Regions from separate parts of the Homo sapiens genome. Here region 2 is linked to region 1. The links come from fine-mapping of genetic effects on gene expression. A gene starts in region 1. The other region holds a variant in brackets. All regions are shown on one strand. Distances are between the middles of the regions.

Region 1 (2,899 bases):
CATGCTTCCCAGCGGCCTTCTGGACATAGATCAAGTCCCTTCTCTGACAGGCCCAAACCCTTTATCATCTGATCCTAGCTCATTTTTCTGAGTTTTCCTTAGTTGCTATTATTTTCTGTCTAAAGTGACATGTCATAATATTCATAAAGCACACAAGTCTTATGTGTACAGCTCAATGAATTGTAAATATGTGTATACCCGGCCGGGCACAGTGGCTCACGCCTGTAATCCCAGCACTTTGGGAGGCCGAGGCAGGTGGATCACTTGAGGTCAGGAGCTTGAGACCAGCCTGACCAACATAGTGAAACCCCATCTTTACTAAAAATACAAAATTAGCTGGGCGTGGTGTCGCATGCCTGCAATTCCAGCTACTTGGGAGGCTGAGGCAGGAGAATTGCTTGAACCCGGAGGCAGAGGTTGCAGTAAGCCGAGATCGTGCCATTGCACTCCATCCTGGGCAACAAGAGCAAAACTCCGTCTCAAAATAATAATAATAATAATAATAATAATAATAATAATAATGTGTATACCCATGTAAACACCATTCAGATAAAAATATGGCATATTTGGGGCACCCGGGGAGTGTCTCTTGTGGCCCCTCCCCTCCATACCCTGCTGATCTATCAGCACAGATTAGTTTCTGCCACTTTTTAAACTTCATATTCCTTTTCTTTTTACACAAACACAAACATTCGAGTCATGACTGGGTGGGGTGGCTCAAGCCTGTAATCTCAGCACTTTGGGAGGCCAAGGTGCGAGGATCGCTTGAGTCTGGGAGTTCAGAGACCAGCCTGGGCAACATAGAGAGACCTCATCTCCACATAAAAAGTTTTAAAAATTAACCAGGGGCGGTGTAGTCCCAGCTACTCAGGAGGCTGAGGTGGGAGGCTTCAGCCCGGGAATTCCAGACTGCAGTGAGCCATGATTGGGCCACTGCACTCCAGCCTGGGCAACACAGTGAGACCCTGTCTCAAAAAAAAAAAAAAAAAAAACAGGAAAAAACAAACAAACAGAAAAGCAGGCCTGGCGCGGTAGCTCATGCCTGTAATCCCAGCGCTTTGGAAGGCTGAGACGGGGTTATCTCTTGGGCTCACAAGTTAGAGACAAGCCTGGGCGTGGGCTATATTGCTAGATCCAGGTCTCTGCAAAAAACAAAACCACTCAGTTTTTAGTCATCTATAACGTCCTGCCTGGAAGCATGCTATTTTGGGCCTCTGAGCTTTTGCACTTGCTAATTCCTTCTGCGCTGGGGAGAGCTCAAACCCTGCCCGAAACTTCTAAAAATGGTGCCTGGATAAATGAAGGCATTAGAGCTGCGATTGGACGGACGGCTGTTGGACGGCGCCACTGCTGGCACTTATCGGGAGATGCTCATTGGACAGTCACGTGACGGGACCAAACCTCCCGAGGGAGCGAGGCAGGTGCGGTCACGTGACCCGGCGGCGCTGCGGGGCAGCGGCCATTTTGCGGGGCGGCCACGTGAAGGACGCACGTTCAGCGGGGCTCTCACGTGACCCGGGCGCGCTGCGGCCGCCCGCGCGGACCCGGCGAGAGGCGGCGGCGGGAGCGGCGGTGATGGACGGGTCCGGGGAGCAGCCCAGAGGCGGGGGTGAGGCGGGAGGCAGACGGGCGGGAGGAGGGCGAGCCCCCTCGCCGGCCCGTCCGGGATCCTTCCTACCGGCCTGGGGCTGTGCGATCTCCAAGCACTGAGGGGCAGAAACTCCCGGATCGGGCGCTGCCAGCCTCCAGTCCCCTCCGTCCTCGGAGGTTCCTGGCTCTCTGATCCCCGTGTCCCGATCCCTGCCTCTCTGGCGCTCTCGGACCCTCGAGAACCAGGGGATCTCGGAAGCCAAGCCCCCGGGCAGGCCCGGGCTTGTCGCCCGCACCACTTCCTGCCTCTGGCACTGGTGGGAGGGGCGGGTCTCGCCTCTGCCCCCTCAGGCCAGGGGTCTGGATGCATATAGCGTTCCCCTAGCCTCTTTCCCCGGGGAGAATGTAGGATACAGGCCCAGCCTCCTGGCCTTTCTCCATCAGGGACTCAGTTGTCTGGGCCCCCCCGTCACTTTATCTGCTAGGGTCCCAGAAGTCCAGGGTCCCCAGCTCTGTCCTCCCTCAGGGGCCGTGAGTCTCCACAGTCTCCTGATCCCCTAGAACCCAAGAGTCCAGGTACCTCTTCCCTTCCTTTCTCCTCTAGGGCCCACCAGCTCTGAGCAGATCATGAAGACAGGGGCCCTTTTGCTTCAGGGGTGAGTTTGAGGTCTGATTATTGTGGCACAGATTTGAGGAGTGACACCCCGTTCTGATTCTGCACCCTCACTCCATCCCCACTCTAGTTTCATCCAGGATCGAGCAGGGCGAATGGGGGGGGAGGCACCCGAGCTGGCCCTGGACCCGGTGCCTCAGGATGCGTCCACCAAGAAGCTGAGCGAGTGTCTCAAGCGCATCGGGGACGAACTGGACAGTAACATGGAGCTGCAGAGGTGTGGGCCCCTGAGGACCCAGAAGTCCAGCCACTGGGCTCCTTCAGGACACAGGACTCTCAGCCCCGCATTCTCCTCCTCCCCTAAGAACTAGGAGTCTGGGCCCCACAACTCAGCGCAAACATTCCGGACTCCCAGCCCTCCTCTCTGCCAGGATCTTAAAACCCTCCTTCAGGGAGTCATTTTTCCCACCTTCCTAAATGTCTGTCTTGTCCCCTTCCCTTGTCCCCCGTTGGCCTGTTGCTTTTCATTTCAGCCTGGCTTGGGGCTCAGTCTCCTTATCTTTAGTGTGCGGTGGATGCGGGAATTTTCCACCATCAGCCTGATGCCTGCTCCCCGGCACTGGTTCTCCTCTCTCCTGCAGGATGATTGCCGCCGTGGACACAGACTCCCCCCGAGAGGTCTTTTTCCGAGTGGCA
Region 2 (2,877 bases), 29 kb before region 1:
TGCAGTGAGCCGAGATCATGCCACTGCACTCCAGCCTGGGTGACAGAGCGAGACTCTGTCTGAAAAAAAGAAGGCTGAGGCAAGAGGATCACTTGAGCTTAGGAGTTTGAGACCAGCCTGGGCAACATAGCGAGACCCCGTCTCAGAAAAAGAAAAAAAATTAGCTGGGCATGGTAGTGTGTGCCTGTAGTCTCAGCTGCTTAGGAGGCTGGTGTGGGAGGATCCCTTGAGCCCTGGAGTTTGAGGCTGCAGTGAGCCATGATCTATCACTCCACTGCACTCCAGGCTGGGTGACAGAATGAGGCCCTGTCTCTAATAGAAAAAAGAATAAATAAAAATGAATTATGATAAAAACCAAGATGTCCCAAGGCAGGATGACTTCAGGGAACCAGGTTCTCGCATCCCCTAGCTGTGCCAAGGATAGGTTTGGGGGCTGGACCCCCCCTCATGGTCCCAAGGTAGCTGCAGCTGCTCCAGATGTCACCAACAGCCAGTGAAGGAAGAGGCCGCATTCTGTTCTGGGCATTGTTAAGTGGGAGAAAATCTGTCCCCAGAGTTCCCTCTCCTTTCAGCCCTCTCCTCATGTTCCCTTATATCCCACTGGCTGTGAGGCACAGGTCAGTGACAGCTGCAGACAGATCCACCAAGCTGGCATCCACCAGTGGTGATTTCATCCTCACCTGGGATGGGGATGCTTTCCTTGGACCAAGTTGGGGTCTGGTAAAAAGCAAGCGGGGAATATTTGTTTTTGTTTTGTTTTGTTTTTGGAGACAGAGTCTTGCTCTGTCTCCCAGGCTGGAGTACGATGACGCGATCTCGGTTTACTGCAACCTCTGCCTCCTGGGTTCAAGCGATTCTCCTGCCTCAGTCTCCTGAGTAGCTGGGATTACAGGTGCCCAGCACACACCCGGCTAATTTTTCTGTATTTTTAGTAGAGATGGGGCTTTCACCATGTTGGTCAGGCTGGTCTTGAGAACTCCTGACCTCAGGTGATCCCCCCGCCTCGGCCTCCCACAGTGTTGGGATTACAGGCCTGAGCCACCACGCCCGGCCAGGAGTATTTGTTTAAATGAAATTCTGGCCAGGCACAGTGGTTCATGCCTATAAGCTCAGCACTTTGGAGGCCAGGGATGGGCAGGGTGGGGG[G/T]TTTCAGGAGAGGATGACAGGAGGATGACTCAAGCTCAGAGCTCAAGACCAGCCTGAGCAACATAGCAAGACCTCATCTCTAAAAAAAAAAAAAAAAAAAAAAAAAAAATTAGCCGGGTGTTGTGGCATGCACCTGTGGTCCCAGCTACTCAGGAGGCTTAAGGACAGAAGAATCGCTTGGCCACAGAAGGTTAAGGCTACAGTGAGCCATGACCACGCCACTGCACTCCAGCCTGGGAGACAGGGCAAGACCCTTTCTCGAGAAAAATAAATAGGCCGGGCACAGTGGCTGATGCCTATAATCCCAACGCTTCAGGAGGCCAAGGAGGAAGGATCCTTTGAGCCCAGGAGTTTGAGGCCAACCTGGGCAATATAGGGAGACCCCATCTCTATGTAAAAAAATAAATAAATAGGGCCAGGCGCAGTCACTCACAACTATAATCCCAGCACTTTGGGAGGCTGATGTGGGCGGATCACTTGAGGGCAGGAATTCAAGCCCAGCCTGGGCAACGTGAAACCCCGTCTCTACAAAAAAATACCAAAATTAGCCGGGCGTGGTGGTGTACACCTGTAATCCCAGCTACTCAGGGAGGCTGAGGCACAAGAATCACTTGAACCTGGGAGGCAGAGGTTGCAGTGAGCCAAGATCACACTACTGTACTCCAGCCTGGGTGACAGAGCAAGACTCCATCTCAAGAAAAAAAAAAAAATTAGCTGGGTGTGGTGGCACATGCCTGTAGTCCCAGCTACTTGGGAGGCTGAGGTGAAAGGATCGCTTGGGCCTGGGAAGCGGTGATTGCAACGCTGCACATCAGCCTGGGTGACCAAGCGGGACTCTGTCTCAGAACAAAACAAAACAAAAATACATATTCCCAGATCCTGGAATGTCCTGGGAAGCTATATGTGTGTCATGCCCTCCCAGCTGCACCTGAACAATGAGCATAGCAAACATCAGCTGCAGCCTCTCTTTGCCTCTCTCAGAAAATGAGGGGAGTTGAGCTTCAGTGACCCAATCTGGAAAACGGGCCTAAATGGTGTTCTTTGAAAGGTTCATATAGGCAAAGCGGTCCCCAAATGCCGAAGGAGCCAAGAAACCAAAGAATGAGGCCGACCCATCTAGTTTGTCAATACAGGGTGGTTTATTAGGGGGAAACTTAGAGTGTGGTCTTCGCCAGGCATGGTGGCTTATGCCTGGAATCCCAGCACTTTGGGAGGCCGAGGCAGGTGGCTCACTTGGGGTCAGGAGTTCGAGACCAGCCTGACTGACATGGTGAAACTTGTCTCCACTAAAAATACAAAAATTAGCCAGGTGTGGTGGTGGGCGCCTGTAATCCCAGCTACTGGAGAGGTTGAGGCAGGAGAATCACTTGAACCCGGGAGGTGGAGACTGCAGTGAGCCGAGCTCACGCCACTGCACTCCAGCCTGGGCTACAAAGCAAGACCCTGTCTGGAAAAAAAAAAAAAAGAAGTGTGGTCTTGGGCAGCAGCAAGACAGATAGATCACACCCTGCAACCCCCAGACACAGGGCTTCTATCTCGAGGAAAGCATATCTGTGCTCTGGAAGAAACGCGTAGGTGGCTATGGGCGATACATCTTGTGATGGATGTGACAACATCAAGGCTTGTTCTGGAGGAAAGGCTGGTAAGTACGTGTTTCTACATAAAGAGTAACACATCCGTTAGACATGTTGGAGGCATTCCCAGTTTCGGGTTAGTCAGAAGTCACACGGC

What was found. PIP is the estimated chance that this variant, and not a neighbour inherited with it, causes the effect.
Region 2: its variant is fine-mapped to the expression of BAX in esophagus mucosa (GTEx, PIP above 0.99).

The regions. Positions count from the first base shown.
Region 1 is chr19:48,953,354-48,956,252 of GRCh38, forward strand. It overlaps BAX (BCL2 associated X, apoptosis regulator), which reads left to right and starts at 1,522. Exons shown (of 6, transcript NM_138761.4): 1 at 1,522-1,609; 2 at 2,195-2,246; 3 at 2,334-2,480; 4 at 2,845-2,899. The coding sequence starts at 1,576. RefSeq lists enhancers at 1,201-1,769, 1,770-2,337, 1,787-1,996 and a silencer at 1,517-1,666.
Region 2 is chr19:48,924,345-48,927,221 of GRCh38, forward strand. No RefSeq gene overlaps it. Among named protein-coding and RNA genes, the nearest start is that of NUCB1-AS1, 6.9 kb to the left of the region's middle. RefSeq lists a silencer at 2,568-2,862. The variant G/T (reference allele first, on the strand shown) is at 1,147.